Linked DNA regions of Homo sapiens: regions 1, 2, 3, 4 and 6 are each reported to be linked to region 5. The links are microRNA targets in miRTarBase. Many come from high-throughput screens and were not tested one by one. Region 5 holds a microRNA gene; each other region holds the end of a gene's coding sequence.
The links. Region 5 holds the annotated microRNA hsa-miR-411-5p (UAGUAGACCGUAUAGCGUACG, at 3,120-3,140, opposite strand). A microRNA usually pairs through its seed, bases 2 to 8, with sites in the 3' UTR of a target mRNA and lowers its output. Matches are read on the target gene's strand: a 7mer-m8 pairs with bases 2 to 8, a 7mer-A1 pairs with bases 2 to 7 and ends in A, and an 8mer does both.

Region 1 (5,074 bases), not on the chromosome of region 5:
TGATGGTTTCCACTGCTTATAGGGAGAGAATGACCTACACAATCTTTCTCAAATCTGGCCCTCATCTACGTTACTTTCAGGTATTTTTTCTCAGGAATTTCATCTTCCAGTTAGAATTATTCAAGGTCTTATATTTTCTCTCTGCCTTTGTGTATACTTCTACCTAAAATTGCTTCATCCTGGCTCCTTTTCTTCTTGGTGGATTCAAATTTATCATGAAGATATTTCAGACTTCATTTGCTCCATGATGCCTTTGCTATGTCTCCTAGACAGAGCCAGTTATTCTTTGGCCAGGACTTAATTGTATTACCTACTTCAGACACACTGAAGAGTGAAGATGTTTAATGCAGAGCCTGGGTATTGTTTCCTGTAGGCTTTAGACATTGTAACTGAAGGCATACCATTGGCTAAAAGGGGAACTGGGTGAGAATGAAGATCAAATCAAATCAATTAATTAACAAGTATGGCTGAGCTTTAACGATGTGCTTATCTACCACTACTGGAAGAGATAACTCCTCATACAGGTCCCATGATCAGTGATAATCAATTTTCTATAACCAGGAGAACATATTATCCTTGTCTTCAACATATAAATGCTACATTATAAATTCTAGTAAGCTTTTTTTAATAACTGGATTTTTAGACTATGAACTAGGAACATGAAGTTGCTCTTAAAATTTCAGAGTCTCTACTGACCAATGCAAATCACTGTTGATAACTGTAGTTTGGGATTTCATCACTCCTACCTCATATGCAGATTTGGAGATTTCTGTTTGGTAGTGCCAATGAGTTTTATCTTCTATTTCTGAGTATAAGACTAAAGGAGATTTTTTTTTTTTTTTGGTTGCCTTTTGCAGCTGGAAACAACGTGGAGGTAGATGAGTCTTTGTTCCAAGAAATGGATGACTTGGAGCTGGAGGATGATGAAGATGATCCAGACTATAATCCTGCTGACCCAGAGAGTGACTCAGCTGACTAATGGACTGTCCCCATCTGCAGAGAGGCTTGACTGCCACAGCATCTGTGGCTATGCTCAGAGGGTTATGATTTTCCTTTCTTTTTTTCTAAGAAAAAATTATTTTCAGGAGAATATTCTTCTGATAGCTTTCATCATTGAACTTAATAAACTGACCTTAAAATTTCAAATATAAAATGTTCAAGGCTTCTTACTGTTGAGCACAAGGTTACGTATTTAAAATCACCTAGTATTTGAGAGAGATCCTGCCTATAGCACCAAGACTCGAAGGTAGGCTGCTGCTGTGCACATGAGTTTATACACAGGAAATTGGAATAACTTGGAATTTCTATGCTGGAGACTTTGGCTACTTCTGGATTTCAAGCATTGTATGAAGTGTGAGAAAACTGAGGTGACTAGCACATTAAACCATCCAGATTCTAGCCTCCAGGCACACTAAATTTAAGTCTTGATAAAACCAGGAGGCCATATTATGATCATAAGTAAGATGAAGTTTAGCCTTCCTTTTAGTCCATTTTGTATTGCCGTAAAGGAATATCTGAGGCTGGGTAATTTATAAAAGGTTTGCCGGGTGCGGTGGCTCACGCCTGTAATCCCAGCACTTTGGGAGGCTGAGGCAGGTGGATCACGAGGTCAGGAGATTGAGACCATCCTGGCTAACACGGTGAAACCCCGTCTCTATTAAAAATACAAAAAATTAGCCAGGTGTGGTGGCGAGCACCTGTAGTCCCAACTACTCGGGAGGCTGAGGCAGGACAATGGCGTGAACCCGGGAGGTGGAGCTTGCAGTGAGCCGAGATCACGCCACTGCACTCCAGCCTGGGCAACAGAGCAAGACTCCGTCTCAAAAAAAAAAAAAAGGTTTATTTGGCTCATAATTCTGGATGACCAGAAAGTTGAAGATTGGGTATCTGCATCTGGTGAGAGCCTCACGCTGCTTCCACTCATGGTAGAAGGGGAAGAGGCACTATGTGTGTAGAGATCACATGGCCAGAGAGTGAGGGTGGAAGTGCCAGGCTTTTTTTTTTTTTTTAAACTAGCTTTGGTGGGAACTCCCTCACCCCTGCTCCCCACAGGAAGGCATTAATCTATTTATGAGGGATCTACCTGCTATAACCCAAACACCCCACCAGCCCCCATCTCCCAACACCACCACACTGGGGATTAAATTTCAATGTGGGATTTGGAGAGGACAAATATCCAAACCATAGCAGTCTTAAAGTATTTAAATTAGAATTTAAATTAAAATTTAAATTACAGTATTTAAATTAGAATCATTTGTGGAGTTTCTAAAAGGTATGCATTCCTAGGCCCCTCTCAAGTTAGATTTATGAACACTGATCCCCAGTCTGAATTTTAAAACAGCAAAATCTCATACTGGTTCTACAGATTATTCTGATGCACAATCTGGGTTAAGAACCACTGTCCTGTAGTCGTGAAGTCTATATATTTTGGTATTTTCTTTACCTCTTCTCTAATTAACCAGTCTGAAGGAGTTTGAATTTTGGGGATCGTACATTGTCTGCAAGAGAAACACATTAACATCCGTGCACATAGAGTCCTTTGTAATAATTTGGGATGATTGACTTGGTGGCTCCAGGTAGGAGAGCCAGTCTTCATGCAAGTTATTCAGTCACTACAGTTTTGGAGGACTGACTCTTAACCCCAATAGGAAATCAGTTGTGCTATTTTAAATTCATAAAGCTATTATAAAGAGCTGCCTCCAGTAAAAAATACATATGCCACATACCCACAAACAGCAATATTAAGCCTTCATTTATTGTTGGAGTTAGACCTTATAATCAAAAAGCAAATTATTTAAGATAAAATTACCATTGAGGAGTTTAATACTTTTCAAGGAATCTTCACGTCAGCCTTGATCCCAGACCAATAGAATGGAATAACAACAGGAATGTTCAGCATTTCTTTGCAGAGAGAAATCCAAAAGTTTGTCCTATGTGAGATTTTGCTTTTCCCATCTTTTTGAAGCTGATCAGCAGATACATAAGAACCTGGAAGAAGCTGCTCAATTAAGGTTAAAAAAAATAAAAAGCAATTGTTAGCAATGTGGTGCTGAAATCAAGACTTAACTTTGAAGTGTCAAGAATGATAACCTCCCATCCACTTCATGTGATTTTTAAGAATAAATTTTATATATTTCTCCAGGTATTAAAGTGGATGTCCACCTTTGCCATTTCAGAACCTAAAGGCAGAATCTAATGGTAAAATGAAGACAACCTAGTTGTCTTCTAATAACCTAGTTAGTTCTAATAACATTCTCAAATATTTTCATCTAGAGTAAATATTTACTGTTGGCTTTGTATTCTGGGAATTAGCCCAAGACTATGCTGCTCAAATGGGTGCAAATATACTCTCAGGTTGCAATAGCATGACGAGTGGTATTTGAAGCAATAATTGTTCCATCTTGGATTATCGGTTTTGCTCTTTGATTTGGTAAAGTTTTTGTTTTTCTACTCGTGCCAGTTGTATTAAAATGTCACTAGGTTAAAAACAAACACAGATATGTTTATTCATTACTGTATCCCTGTAATAATGCCTGGCATGCAGTAGGTCCCTAATATTTGTTGAATGAATGAATTATAGAATAGAGTGCAAAATTAATTCTAATGTATTTTAAAGTAAAGCATGAGAGTTCAAAGAAATGTTGTATTTGCCATCTACAACTTGGAATAATGTTCCTTGATCCTGCTTTACTTCATGCACTTTTGCCAGCAGAGGTGGATGCCTTAGGGAAAAAGTTGGATAAATGCTGATCTAAGGCAACACGTCTAAATGGTTATGTGAACATTTCCCAGTTGGGGTAAAACTAAGAGGAGTGATAATAACATCTCATCAATTTAAAGGACAAGTTCACTGATCGTACTGTCATACTCCAGAGATACATGTGCCAAGAAGCAAAGAGATGCACTCTTGTATTCCAGAAAGAAGATGATTTGTAAGTGTTCAGTATTTGTGTGGCAGCCCTTTTAGGTGTAATGAAGTGTAACAGAAAAGTAAGTGAACTACTTCACATAGCTCTTAATGTTTGTCTTTCAGAGGACATACGAGTCAGGCAGCAAAAGTTGGAGCCATTGTATGATTGTGTGTCAAAATGAGAGTCACACACTTCAAGAACTGTAGGAACTAATTTTAGAAAAAGACTCTTCAGAACAGATGACACATGAAATGTGAGTTTATGTAAACATGTAAATTTGAGTAGCATTAGTTTGTTTTCTGTTTAGGAACTGTATCAGGGTGACAAAGATGAAAGAATGCTGCCAGAAAAGTATATTGTTAAATTTTCAGGCCTCCATTGGTGAAGTTTCAAGTAACCTTTCACTTAAGTTACTTGTGTCAGAGGATGGATGATGGGGTCATTTAAATTGTTGGACAAAGCCATGAAAGGACTTTTAAAATTTTGTCATAAAAATAGCCAATGATGTTTTTAATTTTACATCTAAAACTAATTTGCATTATCCTGTGTTAGTGACTGAATCTCAACTCAGTCCTCATTTTTTAGTTCAACTTTTGACAACCTTATATTCATTGACACCATGGACAGCACAGTAAAAAAATACACAAATTTCTTTTGCAGTTATTGATTTGGAATGATCACTTTAAAAGAGCCATCAAATACGCCTACATATTGAGCCACTCTTTATCATTAAGGTGAAAAGTTCATTCAATTAAGGTATTTGAGTGCTACTATGCGCCAGCCTTTCTTTGTGATAATGTTAATTTTTTTTTTCCTCCCCTCCATGAAGGGAAGAAAAAAAAATTAATTCGGCCATGAATTTTAATATTCTGGCCAGCACCTTATCCATTTGTAGCCACGCCAACAAATTTATTCTGTGATATACCAAACTTACAAAGTCACTCTGCGATTTCAGTAAGGCCCATTCCCAACATGAGTGCTGCTGTCCACGGTACTGAACCATCAATGCTAAATGGTATTTAGTTGTGGATCTTCATCCTGTCATGCAGCTAAATATTCCAGGAATACTGAACCAAGTGAGGAGAAAGATAGCAGTGGGTTGCTGCAAAGGAGGTGAGGGGAGGGGAGAGATAGCAAGTGAGAAAAAGAGAGACTAGTGGTGA
Region 2 (5,074 bases), not on the chromosome of region 5:
AGGCTTTCTGACATCTATGCTAAAAATTAACCACCGTATAATGATTCAGTTCTTCTTTCTTGCTCAATTGCTAATACAATAAAATTTCTTAGCAAAATATAACTTAGAGGCACTATCCGACCTGAGATCTCAGATTCTAACATGTTATGGCTTTTAATATGAACGCCAGTATAACCAGAATGTAAACAAATTATGGCATATAAATTAAAACATTTAAAATATTTTAACATCTATAGACTTTATTAGGTGTTCCTTATACAGTCATCTGGTATGTTTAAAGAGTGAGCAATCATATAAAAGGAAATATGGTCATAACTGATTGAAGTAATAAAATCCTGAAACTAAATAACATCTCATAATTCATTGCACAACATATATTAGATTTCATTACATCAGTATATAGCTTAGTAGTAAATTCTCCTGATGGCCATAAACCTCTAAGGTGTTGTCATCCTGAAAAATGAAGGAGGGGAGGGAGTTGGTGGGGCGCAGAATGGAGAAATCTTCCATAGTGCTCGTGTGATGTACACTAAGTTGTAAAGTTATAGGGCATCGCCACCTAGTGGCAGAATTTCATGCCTTGTTCTAATAAAGGGATTTTCCTTGTTTTCCAAAGAGCAACCTGTCTTACTCACTTTCTAACCATCCCTCTCTGATACTGTCCCTCCTAAAATCCATGCTTCCTCCCATACACCATAAACCCATCTGCTCTTCATCCATCAAGCTGTCAAGGATTTGGTTATGACAATCTTCATGTTCACCTAACTTTTTAATTCCAAGTAGTTTGGTTATTTTCAAAGCTACACACAGGATGCCCATATTTTTAAAACTCCATCCTATTTGTGAAGGATTATTACTTTGGGCTTTGGCCCAGTTTTTATTCTTACTGCTGAATCTTTTCATAAGTCAAAATTAGTGCAGAGTTAATGCTTGAAAAGGGAGTCCTTAAAGTAAATAACTAAATGAAATCACTACCAAAATGTACACTTTGGATTTATTAAGATTCTAGAATTTAAAAACAGGAAAAGGTGCCATTAGTAAAAACTCCATCACTAACATTTTGGTACCACTCGTAGAGCGTCACATAAATATTCAGACCATGATAACTCAGTGCAGGAATGTTATCAAATATTTCCATGCAATCTGGAACTAGGACCACAGCTGGCAATTGGGGGTCTGAAGGCCCGACATCCCTTACGCTGCTTCCTACATCTTGACAACAGGAAGGCCAAGTGATACTAGGTAGTGCACTACAACAGTGAACATAAGCCAGCCATCTGTTTTTTTGCAAAGTATAGTAAAACAAACAAACAGAACATAGACCACTTCAGAGTAAACAAACATAACTTTCTTCAAGATGTAGGAAAACTGTATATTCAAAACCAATCTCAAACTTTAAACAACAAAAGATATCAAACATTTTAAACTGTACAAAGCAAATTAGCAGGATTTGAATATTGGCAGTTTTAAAATGTCACCCATCCAAAACACAAAACAGGGAGATAGCCAAGTCTTAGCTCCATCCTAATCAAAGCTGTCATGCAGATCCAGTTCCACTCTTCTCATCTCCAGCAGGTACTTCACTCAAGGAGGTGACACCCAAGGGGAGTAGATGAACCAGAAACAAGAGTGCCACATAGAAGGAAGAGAGGAGACCTTGGACCTTAGCTACTGGTTAGCTATTCGACATTGATGATATTCAGCGTTTTCCCAAGTTATTCTTTCTCGCTTCTCAGCACATAATTTACATTATGCATACTATATGCCAGAAACTGTTAGTGCTTGACATGCAGTCAGTTAATTTTCACAACTGGGTGAAGTAGGTTTCTATCATTAGCTCTATCTTAGGGACAAACAAACTGAAGCACGGAGAGGTTAAATTGTATTCCTAAAGCACTACACAGTGAGCAAATAGATTCAGACCTGTGCAGTCTAACCCAGAATTAGCTCTGAATCACTCTACCATTCGGTCTACAGGACAATGTAGACCAGACTACAGGACAATGTAGATTTGGTCTACAGGACAATGCAGAGTGCCTGTGTTTCAGGCACTCTCATGGTGATTTTCCACACAGGACGGCTTTTGATAATAGAAAGGCCCTCTCTTTCAAATGAAAGGACTTCACTGATGGATTAACAAATTCTCACCCATTCACCTGTGTGAGCCAAATACTAGATCTACTTTCTTAGTCTTCATAACAAGCAGGACGATAACCATAATTTATAATGAACACAAAACATTGATCTAGTGTTCAAAGAACTTTTGCACACTTGTTCTCATTTAGAAGAATGAAGTAATCTGGAAACATAGAATAGGCATACACTTTGGCTTTAGGAAGAACTCTTACAAAATCAGAGGTTGCCTTATGTAATACCACACTTTACCTTGAGCAGGTGGATAGCCTGGGGGTTCCTGTTATACCTCAGTCTTGGTCAGTTCTATTTGTTCCCCTGTCCTTCAGCAGTGCCCTTAGGCTTGCTTTAAACATTAACAGCATTCATAAGCATGGTTTCTAGGGTCAGAGCCCAGCCTCCCTCCACCCACCCGGCTCCCTACACACCTTGACAGTGCTCTTTGAGATGCCTCAGTTGTAGTCTCCTTGTAATTGTGCACAGTAGACGTCTGAACGAATAGACCAGAGTCCTGCAAACGTGATCTTGAAATCACTATTAAAAGAGCCTTTGCAGAGATCTACTCAGGAAAATTTTCTGAATAGACAAATGCTTTTAAAGGGGGTTCTAGACAGCCCATCTTCTTGGCCTCCTTCTGCAAAGTAGGACTACATTAAAACCTTGTCACAATGTGACCTGAGCAAAACCATTATCAAGTGATCTAGTTGTCTTCAACCATACAAAAGAAAATTGACATGATTTCAGGATAGGTTTAGAAAAATAACGACCAGCGAAAGGAAAAAAAAAAGCGGGGGAGGGGGTTCCTAGAGAATTTAAGAGGCTAATATTTTAGCAAAAATTTAAAGATGCTCTTTATGATACACACATTTCTCATTGCTTTACAAACTTTAAATGTAACACAAATTCGTTTTTCACACTGTTTTGTTATTTGAGGTAAGGCATTCCTGCCACACACAGCAATGACTTGTCCTGGAAAACCAGGGAGGCTGCAGGTCCTACTGTTCCTTCTCTACTAGCTGTGGCTCCACACTCTCACCTCTACCAAAGAAAGCATTTCAGAATTTAGGAGTGGAAATGATGACAACATTGAATAATCCTAATTTTTTTTTTGAGACAGTCAATGTCGCTCAGGCTGAAGTGCAGTGGTGTGATCTAGGCTCACTGCAACCTCCACCTCCTGGGGTCAAGCAATTCTCCTCCCTCAGCCTCCCGAGTAGCTGGGATTACAGGTGCCTACCATCACGCCTAGCTAATTTTTTGTATTTTTAGTAGAGACAGGGTTTCACCATGTTGGCCAGGCTGGTCTCAAATTCCTGACTTCAGGTGACCCGCCCGCCTCGGCCTCCCAAAGTGCTGGGATTACAGGCATGAGCCACCATGCCTTGCCAATGATTCTAATTTATATTTTTAAAAATTACCCTATAATCTTAAAACTTTTAACTGACTAGTATCCAACCCTTAAACTTCATAACAATCATTTCCAAAGTGGAAAAGTCACTGGGATATGGGGACAGTATGATTTGTCTTTATACTTTTATTTTTCTAACATCTTTTTGTTTTCTAGTATACATGTTAGCACAGGAGTATGTATATTACTTAAGTATGCCTATGTTGGGGTGCAGACATAATTTCTTTTTAAATGATAGGATGCAAAATCAAATCTGTTTGCATACCAGTGAAGAGGCTATTTCTCAATCTTGGCAAACTAGGGGGTGCATACCCCCTTCTTTTATTCAGTAGCTTCCATAAGGATGTAACTTACGGAAGTTATATCCTTCCATAAACTGATAGGCTATCCAACCAGTGAGGAAAACTGATAAAGTGGCTTCTGAGCTCCAAGTAGCAGTTAAACACAACTAAATATATCTTGAAAGTTTGGAAAAAAATTTAACAGTAAAGGGATTCAGTAGTTATTCAGTATAAGGTTTGGAATTCAAAAACTCCAGCCATTACAATAGACATTTATTTAAAGTAAAACATCTTCAGACCAAATAATTCTTAAAATTGTTTGTTTCAAGTTTAACCATCTTCATAACAGCTGCATCCACAGACTTCAACTACATGATTACTTCTTTGCCCATTCTTCTCTTTCTTTTCTTTCCCGAATAACCTCTTTCAGATACGGTTCAAGGTAGAAATTTTCCTAAAGAATGAATGAAATATTATATGTTACCATCACGTACTGATATATCCCAAACACTCAACAGGTCTTCAATAACAAGAAAAAAGCAATTACTTTTGAATTTCCAATTTTAGAAAACATATTCTCAACCTAAGAACTATCTGCTTTTTAAAATGTCAAATCTGTGGTGATGGTGTGATAAGTTGCTTTGATAGGTTATGAGGGGGAAGTCTTTTCGGGAAGAAAAAGAAATGAATGTCCACAGGCCTTTGCCTAGTTTCAATGCAGTTCAAGGGGTGAGAGTTTGCTTCACAGAAGCTCTTCTTGGGATCTGGAGGGACACTCAATGGGCTGATCTTTTCATCTAAGTAGGAAGCAGAGTGCAGAGCTGGAACAGCAAAGACCTGGGAGGCAACAGACCTGGATTTTAGTCCTGGCTCTCTATATTAGAGACTTGCTTAGTAATTTCAGAAGAATCATTTCACACGTAAGACTCAATGTGGTTTTCTTCTAAAACGGAAATAACATTTGCTTTATTAACCTCACATATTTATTTGACATGACTCAGAGAACTCTAACACTATGCAAATGAACATGTTTCTCTTGTTTCTAAAACTCCATCCTTAATGAGCAACACTGTCAGGTAGATAAAGCTGTGCTACCTCTTCATATTTGGTCCACTGCTCTTTAGGCAAGATCTGATGCTTCAAGTTCAGGTCCAGTGCCCTCTTAATGCGAAACATCCTGTCATTATAAAGGTTCTCAGGAAGTCTTCTTATGGCTTCTTTTACATCTTCATCCTCGTATATTGTATCATCT
Region 3 (5,074 bases), not on the chromosome of region 5:
TCCTCACTTCTCTCAGCCTTCATACAATGGCAGTTATGGCCTTGCTCTGGATTAGGTTTTGGCTTAAGGGAATTTGTGGTTGGTTTGATCCAGACCCCTAAAACTTTCTCCATATCAGTAATAATGCTGTTTCACTTTTTTTGGTTTCATTCTGTCACACAGGCTAGAGTGCAGTGGCACAATCATAGCTCACTGCAGTCTCGAACTCCCTGGCTAAAGGGATCCTCTCACTTCAGCCTCCCAAGTAGATCGGACTACAGGCATGCACAACCACACCCAGCTAAATTTTTAATTTTTTGTAGAGACAGGGGTCTCACTTTGTGGCCCAAGCTGGTCTCGGACTCCTGGCTTCAGGGGATCCTCCCGCTTTGGCTCCCCGAAGTGCTGGGATTCTAGGTGTCAGCCACTGCACCTGGCCACTTTATTATCGTTCATGTGTTCCCTGGAGAAGTACTTTTCATTTCCTTCAAGAACTTTTCTTTTGCATTCACAACTTGACTGTTTGGCAGAAGCAGTCTAGCTTTTGGCCTATCTCAGCTGTTGACATTAGCCTTCCTCACTAAGCTTAATCATTTCTAGCTTTTGATTTAAAGTGAGAGGCATGTGACTTTTTCACTTAAACACTTAAAGGTGTTTGTAAGGTTATCAATTGGTCTAATTTCAATACTGTTGTGTCTGAGAGAATAGTGAGGTCTGAGGAGAGGGAGAGAGATGGGGAACCATCAGTTAGTGGAGTAATCAGAACACACACACACACATCAACTAAGCTCACTGTCTTAGATGGATGCAGTCTGTGGCACCCCAAAACAATTACAATAGAAACATAAAAGTCACTAATCACCAAAACACATATAATGAAAAGTTTGAAATATTTTAAGTTTCTGTGTAAGACACAGAAAAATGAAATGAGCACATGCTGTTGAAAAAAAATGGCACTGATAGTCTTGCTCAACACAGGCCTGCCACAAACCTTCAGTTTGTAAAAAATGCAATATCCGCAAGACACAATAAAACAAACTGCAATAAAATGAGGTATGCCTGTACTTTGATAATCATTAATTCATTATATTTTAGAAACAAACATCTGTTTTACAACAAGAAATAGGTGGCAAAGGTGGAGGGTGCTGGACGATTGGCAGGCAGCACTTGGGACTGGATTCCTGGGATGAGACAGAATGAGAGCAGTAGCAGAATAAAGGAGACAGGATAGAGACAGAACTACCTTTTATATTTTCTCAGCTGTGCCACTAATGCTTACCTCTCTATGCTTTCTTTATAATTTTGTATAAAATATGTATATTTCTAAACAGTACATTATTTAAGATTTTTAAAAATTTCAGCAAATCATGTTACAGGCCAGGTGCAGTGGCTCACGCCTGTAATCCCAACACTTTGGGAGACCGAGGTGGGTGGATCACTTGAGGCTGCCAGGAGTTCAAGACCAGCCTGGCCAACATGGTGAAACCCTGTCTCTACTAAAAATTAAAAAATTAGCTGGGCGTGGTGGCACACACTACTCAGGAGGCTGAGGCAAGAGAATCACTTGAACCCGGGAGGTGTAGGTTGCAGTGAGCCAAGATTGCACCACTGCACTCCAGCCTGAGCAACAGAGCAAGATTCCATCTTAAAAAATAATAATAATACTATTACAGTCTGGGGGTTTTTTTTGTTTCAACTTGGGTTTGGGGAGTTTGTTTTTTGCTTTGTTCTGTGTTTGATGATCATTGTATATAATATCTGGTAGCATAAAACCCCCCATCTTGTTCTTCAAAACTAGGTTAGCTACTCTGTGTCCTTTGCCTCTCTATACACACACCCCTCTGGAATTTTTATATTGTTTTTAATTTATGAATTGATAAAAATTGAAATCTTGATGAAACTAATCTTTCCTACCCATGAATATAGTGCATCCTTCTGTCATTTAGGTAACCTTCAATGCCTATAATGGGTATCTGATATTTTACAGCTGCTCAACATATTCTGAAAATCCCTTCCCCATTTTCAGACTTCTTCATACTATGACTCTCTTCCCAGGCAGAATCCAAAACCTGTATTTCCCAGAAGCCCCTGCAACTTGGACATACATATATAACCAACTCCCACCGAGCAGGTACACCCTGGCTGAAGACAGAAGACCCTACCAAAATGATTGTAGGGGTATTTTTACTACAGAATGTGAAACGACCTTCCTGGTGGTCCAGTCTCTTCAATGGGGGGTGGCAGTCCAGTAGCAGGCACCAGCAGCTGCTGAGTTTCCACTGGAACCACTTGGTTCTGTGGTTGGTCATTTTTCCTGGCTTCTGCCTATGTGGCATCCCAGCTTAGCTCCTCTTAGACATTTTGTAAGCTAATTAATAGTATGGAGCAAATCTAAGGTAGATTCTTCAGTCTACTGCTGATCACTGACACGGAATGAGGAACCAGAAGTGGGTTACTGAGTGTGACAGAACCTTAAAACACTGGCACTGTTTAGTGGAAGTGACTGAGAATACGGTGGTGAAGAATCAGATACGGCAAGGTGAAAAGTAGATGGGCGAAACGAGGTGGCCACAGCCCTTCCGAACTCAAGTTGGCTCCATATGTTCTCATTCTAGCACGGGGCTGAAGGCGCAGCCACTTTCTGGAGCTTGCTGTTCTCTCGCCGAAGGCAGAAACATAACCATCAGCTGAGCATGAGAACTGAGAGGGATGCTTTGGAAGTTACAGAAGAGAGAAAGTATAAAGTAGTGGCCTAGGAAAGCAGGGGAGTTAAGTGGACTCCAAAAATTGTAGTATGACCATCAGGAAACGTTAAGGGCCTCCATGAAGTTACTGGTCATGAATTTAAAGTGACAGTTCAGCCTGGTAATATGCTTTCTCCTGATCATTTTTGGTGCAGGAACAGAGAAGGCAAAGAACTGCATTTAGTCAGAGATGAGGTTTTGCCAAGCGAGCATGACAAAGCAAGAGAAGGGCAAGGGAGTTAATGGAGACTGTAAGGCATTATTTTAAGAATTAACCATAGAGTTTATGCTGGGTAAAGGAGGAGGGGTGGGCATTTTCTGTTTGAAGCATATCTCTCAAAGTATGGTCCATGCTAAAGATCTGGCCATCACCACAGATAGCCAAAATCAGAATTTGTGCAAGAGAGAAAACTCTTCTTTTTACAAGCACACTATGTAATTCAGACACATGGTAAAGTTTAAAAACCAAGAATGTAAAGGTTTTGCTATTAATTGCTATAGAGAAACATCTAGATAGCAACATCAGCAAAAAAAAAAAAAAAATGTATGGACCCTTCCATCAAAGCTTAGGACTTACTGTTTACATTAATGCCAATAAATGCATAATTCAAGTTCTTTTTCCAGTAACTACTTCACACAGTCCTCTGAATAGTTGTAAAGGATCCTCATCAAGGCCACTTCCAAGAGCAACCCCAAATTCCACTTCACTAACCTACCTAGCCACTGACCCACTACACAGCTCCCTTTATTTCTTAAAAAAAAAAATTTTGGAAGCTTATTCAGATTCCCCTCGAGTTGGCTTTACACCATTATTTTTATTTCTTTAGTAATTAAATTCATATTTATAATTCATAAATATGAAATAAAATATAGAAGCCAGTGCTCACAAAGAAAAAAAAACAGAATGCTCATCAAGAAAAATCTGCACAACAGATTCAACAAAGATGAATGCCTTTGTGTATATTTACTTACGAAATAAAAGTTAAAAGAAACATCTAGCTATCAAGAGCAAAACTAAAGAAAAAAAAACTTCACGTTTAAAGACATGATTACTCTCACTGCCATCAACATACTTTTTTTTTTTACTGTTTATTTCACATTATCTTTTTCACAGATGTATGAGATTCTCAAAGATCTGTGCCAAGGGCAACATAACTTCAACTGTATTAATACCCCACCTAGCCATGGGCCCACTAAACAATCTCCATTAATCTCTACAGTCCATTGTTGGAAGCTTATTCCAATTCTCTACCAGTAGCCACAGGTCTTGTATGTTTCTCCCAGGCTGCTTATCTCTAATCATAATGGCCTAATACAGGGATATCCTCTTTTCCAAACTTTCCTAACACCAAAGTGTTCTACCACCAGCAACCCCACGATGCAGATACAGCCACTGTTGTTCAAGCCTGAAAGGGACCAATGCAAAGGTTAAGTATTTCCATTTTCTACCCAGAAGAGATTATGTAAACACGGTCTTTAAATGTATATAGATTATAATGGAGTTTATGTTGAAACAGCTGTTAACACATGTAAGGTGATGAAAAAAATACAAATGAAACTCAAATTAGGTTGGAGGCTGGGCACAGTGGCTCACTCCTGTAATCCCAGCACTTTGGGGGGCCAAGGCAGGCGGATCACTTGAGGTCAGGTGTTTGAGACCAGCCTGGCCAAGATGGCGAAACCCCATCTCTTCTAAAAATACAGAAATTAGCTGGGCGTGGTGAGGCGTGCCTGTAATCCCAGCTATTCGAGAGTCTGAAGGAGGAGAATCGCTTGAACCCAGGAGGGGGAGGTTGCAGTGAGCCAAGATCACACCACCGCACTCTAGCCTGGGTGACAGAGCAAGACCCTTTCTCAAAAAAATATATAAAATTAGGCTGGAGATTTGCTAGGCATAAGAGCCGTAAGACTGCCAAGATAAAGCTCATGAGGAGTGAGAAGAAGGGGTGAGAATAACTGGGGAAGGTTTCACAGTGGGAGTAAGACCCTGGAAGACACGCACTATTTGGGCAGATGAAGAAGGTATTCCAGATGTAGGCAGCAGCATGAAAAAATTCCCAGAGGTAGGAATGAGCACAGCATGTGGAAAGGTCAGTGAAGGCACAGCTACGGCTGAAGCAGAACAGGATCCCTGGAGAAGAACAGGAGGTATGGCTGGAGAGGAGCACTGGGGACTGACCAGGGATGGCCCAAGGACCTTGACTGGCTTCTTCTCCACAGGGTGCAATTTCTGATGCTGAACAAAACTTCCATACCATTTGAAGGCTTTCCCACACACCTTACATTCATAAGGCTTCTCCCCAGTGTGAACTCTCTGATGCTGAATGGAGGCTATTTTCTGGGTGAAGGCT
Region 4 (5,074 bases), not on the chromosome of region 5:
AGAGGCAGGGGAAAGAGGAGGAAAATCCCTGCGAAAAAGTCCAAAACCTGGGCTTCTCATACTGGTGCTTTTCCTTATCTTGGGCAAGCTAGCTTACTTCTGTAAGCCAGTGTTTGTATTAGTGAAGTGGAGAGGATCTGACTGAGACTCCTTCCTCAGGGGCAACATGAAGATCAAATAAAATAATCTATGTGATAAGTGCTTTGGAAACTGTAAGGTGCTGTGGACACACGTTTATGCATTTGCTCTGTCAGCAAACACTAATGACCCCCTCTGTGTCAGGCACAGGGTTATATATTTCACATACATTGTCTTGCCTGATCCTTGAAATAATTCTATGAAGTAGGTAAAATTATCCCTTTTTACAAACCAGGAAATTGATTTGTAAAGAGAATAAATGACTCAGCCCGGAATTAAACAGCTGGGCGGTGGTAGAGCTAGGATCAGTCTGACTGAAAGACCAGTGCAGGAAACTCCTGCCCTGTACCGTCTCCTTGAAGCAGAATCCCATGTCCGTGGAATTTAGCCTCTTTGCTTCACTGCTGAGCACTGGACATATTAATCCAGAGTGCTTGGGCTGAGGGCACAGAAGGGTTCCAGCAGAAGGGATGGGAAAAGTCCTTATCTGTATCTCTCCTCTTTCCAGGGTTTGATTTCTTTGAAGCCAGTGCAAAGGAGAACATCAGTGTAAGGCAGGCCTTTGAGCGCCTGGTGGATGCCATTTGTGACAAGATGTCTGATTCGCTGGACACAGACCCGTCGATGCTGGGCTCCTCCAAGAACACGCGTCTCTCGGACACCCCACCGCTGCTGCAGCAGAACTGCTCATGCTAGGCAAGGCCCACCTTCCTGACCTCCCCTCATTGTGGCCCCACACCCAGTCTGCTTCTCCCTGTTACACACTGTCCGCTCTCAGCCCACTCTCCCTGTTACACACTGCCCACACTCAGAGCAAGATGAGTTGCTGCTATTCTTTGCCTGCCCCTGGGGTTCTCTGCAGATGGTCCCAGTAATAGATACTCAGCACTAGACTAACATAACAGGTCACTACACGGGTGCAGAATCACTTTACAAAAGAAGACTCTGTTTTACGAAGGGGATTCACTACAGGGACTTAGAGAACAGTCTCTTTTCTGCCTTTAAAATGAGAGTTCCTCCATTTACCAAAATTTGACACGCACACATTCTTCAGGGGCATGCCAATTGCGTAAAGTGAGGCTCGCCTGCATAGCTAATCCTGTTAAAGACAACTTCTCAAAGCACAACGTGCTTGTTTCCTATCGGGCTCCCTGCGGGGCTTTCTCTCACTACAAGTCAAGCTTGGGCTCTCAAAGCCCTGCGCCTGTTACCACGGATGCCCACAGGGCCTGGGCAGTTGCTGTGGCGACAGGAAGAGCTAATCTTCAGAGAGCTCAGACTCTCTAATGATGCTGAAGGAGCAAAGGCTGAGTCAGAAACACACTTAAGAGAAAAGGATTGGCCGGGCGCGGTGGCTCACGCCTGTAATCCCAGCACTTTGGGAGGCCGAGGCGGGTGGATCATGAGGTCAGGAGATCGAGACCATCCTGGCTAACAAGGTGAAACCCCGTCTCTACTAAAAATACAAAAAATTAGCCGGGCGCGGTGGCGGGCGCCTGTAGTCCCAGCTACTCGGGAGGCTGAGGCAGGAGAATGGCGTGAACCCGGGAAGCGGAGCTTGCAGTGAGCCGAGATTGCGCCACTGCAGTCCGCAGTCCGGCCTGGGCGACAGAGCGAGACTCCGTCTCAAAAAAAAAAAAAAAAAAAAAAAGAGAAAAGGATTATCCCCTACAAAATGTCAGAGGTTCCTGCTATATGAAAGAGCAAGTAGGTATGCTCAAGAAAGACAAACAGAGAAAAAGAGAAACAGGCAAGATCAAGAAACAGATCATGAGTTTCTGATTTTGCTGCTTTCCAGTTGGTTCTTAACTGTGGGAACTTAGTGAAATTGGTTATTAGTTCTTAGACTCCTAGAACCTGAGGATTTTAGATTTGACGGGATGCCCAAATTTACCTAGTCTGACTAGTCAGTTCTAACCTTCCTTTTTCTGACAAGTGACTGTCAAGCCTAACAATCAAATCTCTTTCTTTTAAAGCACACCTTCTAGGCAGGGACAGGAGCTCATTTTCCACACCATCTTTGTCAACTCTCATAGAAAGTTTTCCTTGTATCGAGCTCAAATCTGCCTCCTGGAAATTCTTCTTCTTCTTCCCTCCCTGTTGGTACCAGCTCTGCTGTCAGAGACTTCACAGTCTGTGCTCCCTCTGCCCTGTGACGTCTTCAGACTATTTGAGAACAGGAATCATGACTCCTGGGACTTGCCTTTTCTCTAGGTCAAATACCTCTATAATTCCATCTGCTGTTCTTCATAGGGTCTTCTCCCTATCCTGCCCTTTTCCTCCAATCCATCTTTTAACTGCTCTTGAGCAGTCTAACTGAGAAGTATGATTCAAAGCAAAATAAATCTTAAGGTGGCATGACTCTGAAAAAATTGAGAAAATTGAACTCAGAGATCCCGATCCCAACCCCTTTCTCCTGGGAGTGAAACCTTAGTTTCTACCAGAGAGTGTGGGAAACCACTTCTGGTGGAAGCCCCTTAATTAAATACCTGAGGAAAAAAATAAAAGAAACTCAGAGACCAGAATAAATTAGCTCATTATTCTAGCTTGCTTGGCCACAGGGACATATTTTGTTTTGGCTGAAATAATGACATGGAACTGGCAGTGATTCCAGAAAACCTTTCTTCTCTATCATGGCCTGAATCCTCAGCCACCTCAAAAGTCAGCGGGCAGGAGGAGTCTCTCGCCAGTTTTCTTTTCATTTCAAATGAGGCTCATTGTCCTAGAAAAGTAATTAACTAGCAACCAGTCCAATGACTAAATAAAAGGACCATCCAGCTGTGGCTCACACCTGTAATCCCAGCACTTTGGAAAGCCAAGGCAGGAGGAACACTTGAGGCCAGGAGTTTGAGACCAGCCTGGGCAATGTGGTCAAATTCTATCCCTACAAAAAAAAAAATTAGCCAGATGTGATGGTGCATGCCTGTAGTCCCAGCTACTTGGGAGGCTGAGGCAGGAGGATTGCTTGAGCCCAAGAATTTGAGGTTGCAGTGAGCTGTAATTATGCCACTGCATTCCAGTCTGGGTGACAGAGTAAGAATAAGACCCTGTCTCTCTGTCTCTCTTTCTCTCTTTTTTTTTTTAAAGGAGTCAGCTCTACAAAGATGTTGCTTTCTTTGATGCAATGCAGAGAGCAGAGCTTTGGACTTGGAATCAGGAGACCCGGACTCTGTCATTAAATCAACTGTGACTCTGGGCCAGTTACTTTCCACTTTTGAGTCTTGATTTCCTACTTATAAAATGAGGGAGCTTATTTGGATGATCTTTAAGGTCTCTTTTGGCACTAATAACTCGGTGTCTCTTTTTTTTCACCTTCACCATTTCAGTTGATCCACCAAACAAACCTGAGAGATCAGGATTGGCATCCAAGAGTTGTCTCGGCCAACTCTGATGTCATGCTTACTCTGTACTAGACATTGTTCCAAGCATTTTACGTGCATTAACTCATTTATCTTCCCAACATCTTGTGAGGGAGGCACTATAGTGAGCCTCATTTGAAGATGAGGAAACAAAGGTACAAAGAGGTTCTAGCTGGACCTCTAAAGTCACATAATAAGTAAGTGGTAGAGCTGGAGTTCACATCCAGGCAGTAGGCTCCAAGGTCTGTGCTCTTAACCACATTCTGGGCTGCATCTTTTATAGACAAACTATGATCCAGAGAGATTACGAGACTTGGATCACATACCAAGAGAGTGTTAAAGCCACATTAGGATTCAATTCCAGGGCCATCAGATTCCAAGTCCACTGGAGAAAAGATGTATATCTCTAATCTGTTAACAAATTGCTCAACTACTCAGACTAATCCCAGGTGATGGATGTCTAATGCTCAGGAAAGGCGAGTCAGTCTCTGAGGCAACAGATCCCATGGGCCTGGGTAGAAAATGCCCAGTGCTTCCCAGTCCCAAGTGCTGGCTTTCCCTGTATCTGCCTCTGCCAGGCAACACTTATCAGGCTCCCAATCAGCAGGAGCCTCCATGCTCCACTTTGAACAGCCTCTATGCTCCAGCAATGGGGCATTTGTGAAGAGTGACTTGATTAACTTTTCTGACCATGGGTATAATACAGTTGCTTCAGAGGGCAGTGGTTCTGGGTGTGATTTTTACACTGTAACATTGTATACAGTGTCATGGATAATTACTATTTTTTTCTGGTCATTAACACTCACCTACTCTAGTACTAGGATTTCAGACCAAGGTCCTCATGACGCCTGGATATTTTAGTATCTATATCCAATAATCTTTTCTCTCCTACTGAATATCCAGGCAAAGATGAAATCGTTTTCTTTAAAACTGTCAAATTCTGTAAAACTCAGGAGCCAGTTCAAGGGAACAAGCATCTTCACAATAGATGGAATCAAGAGTTAAATGTTATAGTGGCAAGCTTGTCTACTGGGCAACAGACAACCAGACCTGCTTGTGAGATGGCAGCTCCCCAGCCCTGCTCTGTGACCTCATTTCTGTCAAATGAAAGGCAGCAGCTTCCAGCTGATTGCAGCATAGTGTTCATCAATCACAGTAATAGCGCAATTAGCCACCAAGGTTCAAGCTGTGTAATATGTGTTAGTGGCAACTTGTCCTGGATTTAATCTTCCTCAACAATCCAAATAAAATATTTAAAAACTCTTGACTTCTGGCTGGGCGCAGCAGCTCATGCCTGTAATCCCAGCACTTTGGGAGGCCGAGGTGGGCAGATCACCTGAGGTCAGGAGTTCAAGACCAGCCTGGGCAACATGGTGAAACCCCCATCTCTACTAAAAATACAAAAATTAGCCAGGCGTGGTGGTGGGCACCTGAAATCCCTACTCAGGAGGCTGAGGCAGAGAATCGCTTGAACCTGGGAGGCAGAGGTTGCAGTGAGCCGAGATCGTGCCACTGCACTTCAGCCTGGGTGACAGAGCGAGACTCCATCTCAAAACAAAACAAGCAAACAAACAACA
Region 5 (5,074 bases):
GCACAGATGCCCCAAAGCAAGGCTGACTCCACCAAAGGTCCTGCTAAGGACCCAGTGGAGACTGAGGTGTGACGGGCCAGGCGACCTTGGTTGTAAATTAAAGTGCATACACTCAGGTCAGCTGATCACTGGAGGACTTTGGGATGGTATAGACAGCATGCCCCTTCCCTTGAACTTGGATGCCTCCACATCTAGGAAGCCCTCCAAGGAAAGAGATCGGAGTGAAAATCAGTCCAACTCAGCCACATTTGGCATACATGTCGCAAACGCCTCGCAGATGCTCTCTTCAGAGTCTAACAGAGTGCAGCTGGCCCCAGTTTACTGTCTCTTTCCCAAAAAGTTGACACCTCTTCCAGGAAGTTCTCCAAGGGGGCATTAGATACTGAGGGTTAGTGGACCAGGTCACAAACGGCACAAATAAAGCGTGTGCTCTCTGGTCAACCATCTCATGTATCCAGGCACGTGCTGACACCACGCTCCTTGTCCGCAAGTTAACCCTGCTGCCAAGCCAGAGCAGTGTGCTGAGAAGAAGGCTGCCACACGTGAGTTATCGTCACACACAAGACAAACACATCACAAACCCCGCTGGGTCACACTGAGCGCAGACCTAGTGGCCCCCACCCCCGCAGTTGATGTTAGCTCCAGGAAAGCTTGCAAGGCGGGATTAGATACTGCAAAGAGGTCGACCGTGTAATGTGCGCCATAAATAAAGCGAACGCGCCACGGACCACCTCTCTCCAAGTACCAAGCAGCAGCCGTACTGACACCAGGACAGTGGCTCTTCCGCAAAGCTGATATCACCTCCTGGAAGTCTTCCAAGGCGAGATGTGATATTGAGAAGAAGTAGACCATGTGTCCTACGTCACAAATAAAGCGTACACACCATGGTCAACCGCATCTTCAAATACCAGGAAGTGACGCTGACCCCTGGCTCTCTTCCTTTCACCTGCTATCACCTCCAGAAAGCCTCACAATGCGCATCATGAACTACCAGCCACCGGCAATGTGGCAATGACCACAAACCCACATCCAATGCCACTACCACCTCCAGGATGCCCTGTAAGGGTGGGACCGGTACTGAGTTCTTGGCTGGTGGACCAAATGGCCAATGTAATAAATAAAGGACTGGGTCTGCAGCCAACCACCCGGTGACCTGCACTGCACCCTGGCTACCACTCAGGCCTGGCTCTCAAGTCGGCATGGCCTCCGGGAAGCCCCAGGGCTGGCTGATACTGAGAATGAGTGGACCATGCTACATCTGTCATTCAACAATGCATATGCTTTATGCTCTACCATCTCTCCAAGTACTGTGGAATGGCGCTGAAGCCAGATCAGTGTGTCTCCCACGAAGGTGACTTTGCCTCTCTCTGGGAAGCCCTCTATGACTGAATTTGATATTGAGAAGATGTGGACCATATTACATACGACACAGAGATAGCGCATGTTCTATGGTCAACCATCTTTTCAGGTACCTTGGAGAGGGCTGAGGTCAGAGCCGGTGTCTCTTTCCTCTCACTAGCATCACCTCCAGGAAGCCCTCTGAGGCCTGATGTAGTATTGAGAAGAGGCCACCATGCAATGTCTGCCGCAGATGCAGTGGACGCAGCACAAAGGAGCCCCTCAAGAATGGAGATGATGCTGGAACTAGTGCTATGACTGACACTCGTTCCTGCCTACAGAAAGCCCCCCGAGGTGCACGCTGTTATAGGAAGGTGGACGAAGTAACATGCGTTGTAAGTAAAACATATGAAGCATGGCCAACTTCTACTAAGTACCCCGAGGCAGTACTTGTACCAGAACTGGTGCTTTGTCTCCTAAGCTTAACATAACCTCCCTGGAGACTTTCCAGGCTGAATGGGATACTTCAAAAGAAGTAGACCATGTTACATACGTCATGGGGAAAAGACATGCAGTGTGGCTGAACCCTTTTCAGGTACCGTGAGGTCAGTGAAGAGGCCAGAACCAGTGCTCTGTCCCTGAGGCTGGCAGCTTCTTCAGCAAGTTCTCCAAGCAAGGGTTCTGGGATGGAGATAGGGAAGAAGTGGGCCATGGAGGCACTTCCTCTGTAAACATACACGATGGGGTCGAGCAGCTCTTCATGAGGATCAGTGCTGAGTCCAGAGCTGGGACATCTTCCCCCGAGATGGCTAGACTTGAGATGGAAAAAAGATAGACTGTACACGCATCAGCAAAGACAAAAACGAGTCAGTGCGTCTTCAAGTACCTGGAGTGGCATCATCTCCTGGACCCATATCTGCTCCTACATGGGCGTACTGTCCTGAAGTCATCTGAGGAGGGCTCTGAGGATGAGAGGTGACCTGTTTCACATCCCTCGTTCATGAACATTTGCGGCACCAGCCACCGTTTCTTCAATTACTCCAGAGGGATGTGCCAACGTGGGCAGTAGGACACCTTCCTGGAGGTCATCCTTGTCCTGAGGAAGTCACTGGAGGCTGTGTTTGGCACTGAGGAGAAGACCGCATCACAAGCATTGACAGAGAAAGCACACATCTAAGAGTCTACCATTCCACCAAGTGCCATGGCATGGCGGATGCCGAGACCCGTGGCTCTCCTCTAACTCCAGGCTTTCTCCAGGGAGGTTTGGATGGCTGGGCTGGATACCAAGAAGCGGTTTACCATCCCACATACATATTCAAAATGTATGTGGGACGGTAAACCATTTCTTCAAGTACCGCACGATGGTGGTGGTGGTGGCTGGAAGAAGGCTCATGTCCACGAAGTTGCCTGAGGGCGCTTCTTCTAGGCTGCATTTGACGCTGAGAAGAAGCAGGTCACGGTGTCTACTGAATAAGCGTAGCGTAGTCAACCACGTCATTGAGCACCATGGAATGGCACTGATTCCGGGAAGAATCAAGGTCTCCTCCCCAGGGATGGCGCGATTTCCCAAGGCAGAACTTGATTTAAGAGGAGCGAGATTATGCCATTTTGCATCATGCAGAAAAACACATGCCATACAGAAAATCATCTCTTCGGGTGTCATGGAGAAGTGGTGGTGGGTCCAACCGTTCCTCCCCGAAGACAGCGTTGTTTCCAGGAGCCTCGGGGATGGATTTGATACTGAGGGTTAGTGGACCGTGTTACATACGTCACAGATAAAGCGTACGCTATACGGTCTACTATCTCTCCAAGTACCACACAGAGATGCCGAGGACAAAGGCTCAGGACACATCCAGAAAGCCCTCCAAGGCCTTGAGCTGGGTGGAACCAGAAGGGAGGTTGAGCACAGCACATGCATCATGCGACAAGCACACACAGGCCAGGAGTCTCGTCTTCATGGTCGGGGGTTGACATGAATGCTCGAAGCAGTGGCTCATCCCCAAAACTGGCAACTCCTCCAGGAAGCCCTTCGAGGCCGAAAGTCCCACTGAGAAGAAGTGGACGATGATATGGATTTCATCACTCCATAAATACTGATTAAGTGCCTGCTGTGTGCCAGGCGCACTGTGCTGGGTCTGAAGGAGTGGGTAGATGGGAGGGAGGACATGGCACATGGCTAACAGAGCTGGTTAGGGGAGTGGGGAGAAAATCAGAAATACAAAATGGCCCACGTGCAACCAAAGAACATCCATCTAGTTACACTAACCAGGCCAAGGAAACAGTACTGGGCACCTGAGGCCCAGATCTTACCTATTAGTGAGCTCTAGTCTTGGGCATTAAAAAAAAAAAAAAAGTGCCCTAAGGCCATATCTGCCTCAATACCAAGGGCATTTCCAGGAGGTCCTCTTAGGTTGGATTAGATTCTGAGCAGTAACCACCATGCCATCTTCATGAACAAAGCAGGAGTTGTTTTGGTCAACCACCTCCCTAAGGACAGAACCACTGTCTCATTCCCAGACTTGGCACTGCCTCCGGAAAACCCTGAGACTGAATGTAAGATTGATCAGAGGTGGACATTGGTATAAACAGAAAACTTCAACACAGGAAAGCAACTCTTCAATGCCACACAGCGGAATGAAGGATGGACTGGTGGGTCCCCCTGAAGGTAGTATTGGCTCCACGAAGCCCTCCAAAGCTGGCAGGCTACTGGGAAGTGGTAGCCCATCTCACACAAATCCCTCCTTTCGCACAGGCCACATGGCAAATCATCTCTTCCAGAACCACGGCTGAGGCTGGAACCGGTGTCTTGAGCCCAAGTTGCATCACTTCCAGAAAACTCCCCAGAGAGTGCATTTAGTGCCCAGAAGAGCCAGGCCTTGTTGCACAAGTCAGACATCAACCATGAGCCACAGAAATTGCCGTGGAGCAGTGCTGAAGCTAAACCACGTGTTCTCTTCCCTGAAGTTGGCAACACCTCCAGGAAGCCCTCCGAGGATGGATTGGATACTGAGAGTTAGTGGACCATGTTACATAGGTCAGAAATCATAACGCCTACGTTCCATAGTCTACCATCTCTTCAGGAACCACGGAATGGTGCTGACCCCAGAACCAGGGCCTTGCCCCTGAAGTTGGCGTCACTTCCAGAAAGCTTTCTGAGGCTGGATTTGGCATTGGAAGCAGGCACATGGTGAACATAAACAACCCCTCCTCCAATGTGGGGCAGTGGCATTGATGGGGGAAGGGGTGCCTCTACCCTAAGTGGTAATTCCTCCAGGAAGGCCATGTCAACTTGGAAAGACTGCGACAAGGCAAAATGTACAATACTGACCATGCTTTGGCCATTATGTGGTCAACTATCTCTTCATCAAGATAAAGGGCAGTGTTTTGTTCTGCATGGCAAATGGGACACTCCAAGAGCACAGTTCATCATATAAAAGGGGACCCTCAACCTCTAGGTAAAAACTTCCCTAGCTCACCCAAGTTCCGATGGTCCTCGCCATGCTCTAGACCACCTTTGGAGACTCAAACCACAGAGCTGAGTGGGCAGTGCGTTCCTCCAGCTCCTGATTAACCTCTCCACCTCCTTCAGGAGGTCTTCCTTGATTTTCTCCATCCCCTTTCATGGCACAACTATCCCATGTGAATGGAATGCAAAGCAATGATTTGTTAGCCTCCAGGGAAAGGACAAGGGCAGAACCCTCAGCAGCCCTGCAGGACAGCTCGGTTGTCCTCTAAA
Region 6 (5,074 bases), not on the chromosome of region 5:
AAACTGGAGATTGAGGTAAACTGTAATACTATGCTCAGGATGGGGGTTAGGTGTTGCCATTGCCAAGAAGGAAAGGCCACTATCTCTTCAATGTTAATTATTTTTGGCTGGAAGGAGCTTTCATTACTTTTCCTGCTACCTCCCCGTTTCCAAGCTTAGTTGGGCTTTCCTTGACCTGGCCCACATTTCTGGCCTCTGCTTATTCCTCCCCCTTTAGTCAAATCTTATTACAATCAAGCAATCATTGTTCCCAGACTTTTGTTCCTACGGGACCTGCTAATCCCATTCCAAATGTCAAAATCCAATTTAAGAACTAGTTCAAAGGCCACCCCCCTTCCCCTGAACTCCCATGGCCATCTACCTGGGGCAGCTTATTTTTGGTAGTCTTGGTGCCATCGTCTGGACCAGTCTTGCCTCCCACACCAGCTGGGCTTCTTGAGGTGGGAGGTGGCAATTTTAAATGTCAACAAAATCTGTGACATTCTCTAGATGGAGAGGTGACTGAATAATGTGACAAAAGTGATGCTGGGATGACTTCCAAGGCTAGGTCATAAAAGGCAGTGCTGCTGATGGTTGATTTGTTGGAGCAACTAGCTGGTGGCCCTGAGCCGCCTCATAAAAAATTCTACCTTTGAAGCTACCCATGTGGTGAGGAAGCCCAAACTAGCCCACAGAGAGGCCACCTGAGAGACCCTGTAACCACACACATTGGGAGATGCCTGGCCAGCCAGCCTCGTGCTATTCCAGCTGACAACTACAAGTGCAGGATACTCTTGAGCTACAACTGTCAAGTTTGAGCCTTTCCCAAATCCTGACCCACAGAAACCACGACGTGAAACAATTACTGTTGTTTTAAGCTCTTCAGTTTTGAGGTTACACAGCAATAGTAATTTGGGATTGTTTCTAATGCCTGTATGAGACCCACATAGGGCCTCATAAAAAGAGGGAGTGGGTCTAGGGACTCAGTAAATGCTTAACACTTAGTTTCAAACCTCTTTCTTGGGGGCTACTTTGCTTTTTTATGCCAAATTTTCAATGTTATATATAGCAATGTTTTGTTTTTGTTGTTTTTGAGACAGGGTCTCACTGTGTCGCCCAGGCTAGAGTGCAATGGCATGATCATAACTAACTTACTGCAGCCTCCACTTCCCGGGCTCAGGTGATCCTCCCACCTCAGCCTCCTGAGTAGCTGAGACTGCACCATGCCTGGCTAATTTTTTTTGTATTGTTTTGTAGAGATGGGGTTTTGGCATGTTGCCCAGGCTGGTCTCGAACTCTAGGGTTCAAGCAATCTTTCTGCCTCAGCCTCCCAAAGTGCTGGGATTACAGGCATGAGGCACCATGCCCAGCCATGCTTTCTATTAATAGACTTTTTTTGGTTAAGAAAGCAATGATATTAGAGGCCTTAAGGAAGTTATATAACCTTCAAAACGTAAGCAGTGCAACAATTAAATCTCTTCTGGGAAGGAAAATGCTTTTGGCTAATGAGTTACGAACAAAACAAAATACAACAGGATTTCAACAAGGAAATGTATTTATTTTTTCTTTAGAATTTGGCTCAGAACAGTAACAAAAATATTTACATTAAAATAAATTAACATGCAATTACTTAACCATATGTAATAATTTACGTTGGAATATATTAGCCTTCCCATGAGTTTAATAAAAACTAATATTTGGTTTTAGATTCAATACCATCCTTTCAAATATTTGGTATGAAACTTGGTAGCAATGCAATTGTCTGATGTACAGAGCAGATTTCACCATGAGAGATTACACCAAAGAACAGATGTCCCTTCCCAGAACATTATCTCACCCCAGACTCAGAAACTGAGCAGCCAAGCTTCCTTCCCAGGAATCACCATGGAATGTCTGAACAATAACCAGGCCCTGGAGATTACTGCAGGGCTGGCAGAGTTTTAGGAATCAGCCAAACTCTTTTTCACACTAACCCACTAGGAAGGATATAGTTCAAATGTAATGTTGAGTCCTTCAGTTTATTTGAACACTGAAACAATATGTTGTAGAAACCTTCATTTTCCCAAAATAGAAATCTGAAAGATATATGCACATGATTTCTTAGATCATCTAAAAGTACCCATAAAAACCTGTCACTAGGGCCAGGTGTGATGGCTTACACCTGTAATCCCAGCACTTTGGGAGGCAGAGGCGGGCGGATCACCTGAGGTCAGGAGTTCAAGACCAGCCTGGCCAACATGGTGAAACCCTGTCTACTAAAAATACAAAAAAAAATCAGCCGGGCGTGGTGCATGTGCCTGTAATCCCAGCTACTCAAGAGGCTGAGGCAGGAGAATCACTTGAACTTGGGGGGCAGAGGTTGCATTGAGCCACTGCACTCCAGCCTGGGTGACAGAGTGAGACCCGTCTCAAAAAAATAGAACACCTGTCACTAGACCAAATACTATACTGGTAAAATTTCACAGCAGAGAGGAATATTTCATTAAATTCAGCTGATAGGGTCAAGGATACATTAAGTCATTTACAAATCAGATATTAGTATTAAAGTTTTTGGTGGCCTAGAGTGAATTAGAATATGTTAGCATTTTGAAAGTGTTTTTGAAATGAGAGGTTGTGTGGCTCAGCAGCAAAAGCACAGAGGGACCTGGGATCAAACCCTCTCTCTAGCCCCATAGCTTAACAGTCAAACACACCAAGTTCTATAAAATAAAAATTAAAACACCTACCTCATATGTTGAGATAATTTAGGATAATGTATATGAAGCACCTAGTTCAGAGCCTGGCACACAGTAGGCACTTAATAAGTGGTGGCAGTTAGTATTTCTTCCAAGTTAACAATTCATAGCCAGAACTTTGGCTTTTGTATTTTGACACCAATGAAAACACGAATCATGTAGACAGAATCCTGATTCATGGCTCTGGGCTCTAGGTAAAACTCAAAACTTTAATGGACACCCTAGGGTGTTACTCAACACAGTATGAAAGGCTACTGAAGGAAGAAGTGTCTGCTGGTCAGTAGCAAAGATCCTTTTGGGACAGTTAATCTCCTTTTAAAGGCTCTAAGTCCCAGTGGCTTCTCAGCTGTCCTAAGAAGATAAGGACAAGGTCACTAAGGCCACTGTAATTTAGATCCCTGGTCTAAAGTCTCTTGTAAGTTCAGCTAGAGTAATAACATCTTTCAACAAATGGTATCCAGGATTAGGGGGGATATCTGAGATGGGGGAGTGATAGATATGTCCAGTGTCTTGATTGTGGTGATGCTTTCACAGGTATACATATGTCAAGGCTTATCAAATTGTAGGCTTTAAAAACAATAAAGCTGTTTTAAAAAAAAGTGTACTTAAGCCCTTCCTGGTAAGATTTCCCTCTGTTCTCTGACTGGATCACCTTCTGTGATCTTAGTTTGGGGTTAGAGGAGGAAGGATGTGTGTGTGTGTGTGTGTGTGTGTGTAGACGGAGTCTCGCTCTGTCACCCAGGGTGGAGTGCAGTGGCATGATCTCGGCTCACTGCAACCTCCGCCTCCCGGGTTCAAGCAATTCTCCTGCCTCAGCCTCCCGAGTAGCTGGGACTACAGGCACATGCCACCACGCCCGGCTAATTTTTGTATTTTAGTAGAGATGGGGTTTCACCATGTTGGCCAGGCTGGTCTTGAACTCCTGACCTCAGGTGATCCGCCCATCTCGGCCTCCCAAAATGTTGGGATTACAGGCGTGAGCCACTGCGCCCAGCTGGAAGGATTATTATTATTATTATTATTATTATTATTATTTATTATTATTATTTTTGAGATGGAGTCTTGCTCTGTCACCCAGGCTGGAGTGCAGTGGTGCGGTCTCAGTTCACTGCCAGCTCCGCCTCCCTGGTTCATGCCATTCTCCTGCCTCAGCCTCCCGAGTAGCTGGGACCCGCCACCACACCCAGCTAATTTTTTGTATTTTTAGTAGAGACGGGGTTTCACCATGTTTCACCATGTTAGCCAGGGCGGTCTCGATCTCCTGACCTCGTGATCCGCCCGCCTCGGCCTCCCAAAGTGCTGGGATTACAGGCGTGAGCCACTGTGCCCGGCCTGGAAGGATTATTAATGCAAACTTCAGGATGAAGTGATATCCCAGGCAAGGCCTGAAGGTCTCAGTGGTATTAATACATTAGTAAGCAGAGTTCTAAGAAGGCTTCCTCTCTATTATTGTAGCTGCTTTGGCACAGAAAATTGTGACTGTAACTTACAGGGTTTGAGCTAAAATGACCCCTAGTAAGAAGACATCAGAAAGAATAGCATCTACAAAAATAGGAGTGGGGAAAGGTGACTCTGGAAGAGGAGACCAAAAGTGAAAACATTTCTCTGCCAAAGTCACCTGCAGTTCAATACCAGATTTGATTGTTAAGAAACGGTCATCCTAAAGACAAGAACTTGATTCCACTCAGGAGCTCTGGAGAGAAGGTCCATGTCTGTTCCTGGAGGTCTAGTAGATCCTGCGTGTTGTGTAGTCCAGAACCATGCTGGCAGCACCCAGCAGGGCGGGGTCAACCAAATCCGAAACCACCACATCCACGTCCTGCACGGAGGACAAGGCCTGCTGGCGAATGACGTCTTTGACAATGTGGATATAGTGACTGGCCAGGACTCCGGAGAGGATCACAAGGGAGGGATTCATGGTATGGAGGATGTTCACAACCCCAAGACCCAAAGCTGTTCCAGCTATAGGGAGACAAAAATTAAAATGAGTTTCTGAGAGAAGCCAAAATCAAAATACCAAAGAGGAAGGCAGAAAAGAGCCAGCAGCAGAAATGTTAAAGAACATCCACGGCATGCAGTGGGAGGCAGTGTTTTAAAAGCAGTTCACGGTTGATTCTTAATATGAGAAAATGATCATGTGACAGCCTCAAGTGGAAAAAGCCGGGTGTACCACATGATCTCCACTAGGCAAAAAAATGAATAGAAAGACTCGAAGGAAATGTTAATAGTTGATACCTCCAAATGGGAAAACTAAGTGATATTTTTTCTTACAACTGTCCTATATTTCTCTAAATTTCCTGTAAAATGAAAGGAGCATTTTTATAGTTGTCAAACCAAACCAACCACCTGCTGAAAAAGGC

Region 1: miRTarBase lists RWDD1 as a target of hsa-miR-411-5p. The part of its 3' UTR that is shown has no 7-base or 8-base seed match.
Region 2: the mRNA of UQCRB is a reported target of hsa-miR-411-5p. Seed matches in the 3' UTR shown: 7mer-A1 at 3,400-3,406 and 7mer-m8 at 2,615-2,621.
Region 3: the mRNA of ZNF621 is a reported target of hsa-miR-411-5p. The part of its 3' UTR that is shown has no 7-base or 8-base seed match.
Region 4: miRTarBase lists RAB3B as a target of hsa-miR-411-5p. Seed matches in the 3' UTR shown: 7mer-A1 at 1,591-1,597, 7mer-m8 at 4,522-4,528 and 7mer-A1 at 4,885-4,891.
Region 6: the mRNA of GNE is a reported target of hsa-miR-411-5p. Seed matches in the 3' UTR shown: 7mer-A1 at 3,919-3,925 and 7mer-A1 at 3,590-3,596.

Annotation. Positions count from the first base shown.
Region 1 is chr6:116,592,123-116,597,196 of GRCh38, forward strand. RWDD1 (RWD domain containing 1) reads left to right here. Exons shown (of 7, transcript NM_015952.4): 7 at 858-5,074. The coding sequence ends at 979. Among named protein-coding and RNA genes, the nearest start is that of RSPH4A, 22 kb to the right of the region's middle. RefSeq lists silencers at 4,751-5,051, 4,801-5,001.
Region 2 is chr8:96,226,857-96,231,930 of GRCh38, forward strand. It overlaps UQCRB (ubiquinol-cytochrome c reductase binding protein), which reads right to left. Exons shown (of 4, transcript NM_006294.5): 3 at 4,918-5,074; 4 at 1-4,276. The coding sequence ends at 4,199. Among named protein-coding and RNA genes, the nearest start is that of UQCRB-AS1, 5.9 kb to the right of the region's middle.
Region 3 is chr3:40,532,664-40,537,737 of GRCh38, reverse strand. ZNF621 (zinc finger protein 621) reads right to left here. Exons shown (of 5, transcript NM_198484.5): 5 at 1-5,074. The coding sequence ends at 4,648. Among named protein-coding and RNA genes, the nearest start is that of ZNF621, 10 kb to the right of the region's middle.
Region 4 is chr1:51,915,687-51,920,760 of GRCh38, reverse strand. It overlaps RAB3B (RAB3B, member RAS oncogene family), which reads left to right. Exons shown (of 5, transcript NM_002867.4): 5 at 647-5,074. The coding sequence ends at 834. Among named protein-coding and RNA genes, the nearest start is that of NRDC, 39 kb to the right of the region's middle.
Region 5 is chr14:101,021,406-101,026,479 of GRCh38, reverse strand. MIR411 (microRNA 411) reads right to left here and starts at 3,155; the gene lies at 3,060-3,155. LOC124903407 (mucin-2-like) reads right to left here. Exons shown (of 5, transcript XM_047432049.1): 5 at 1-5,074. MIR379 (microRNA 379) reads right to left here and starts at 4,414; the gene lies at 4,348-4,414. MIR299 (microRNA 299) reads right to left here and starts at 2,686; the gene lies at 2,624-2,686. It also overlaps MIR380, MIR1197, MIR323A and MIR758.
Region 6 is chr9:36,212,925-36,217,998 of GRCh38, forward strand. It overlaps GNE (glucosamine (UDP-N-acetyl)-2-epimerase/N-acetylmannosamine kinase), which reads right to left. Exons shown (of 12, transcript NM_005476.7): 12 at 1,517-4,676. The coding sequence ends at 4,441. LOC124902151 (a long non-coding RNA gene) reads right to left here and starts at 1,087. Exons shown (of 2, transcript XR_007061474.1): 1 at 362-1,087.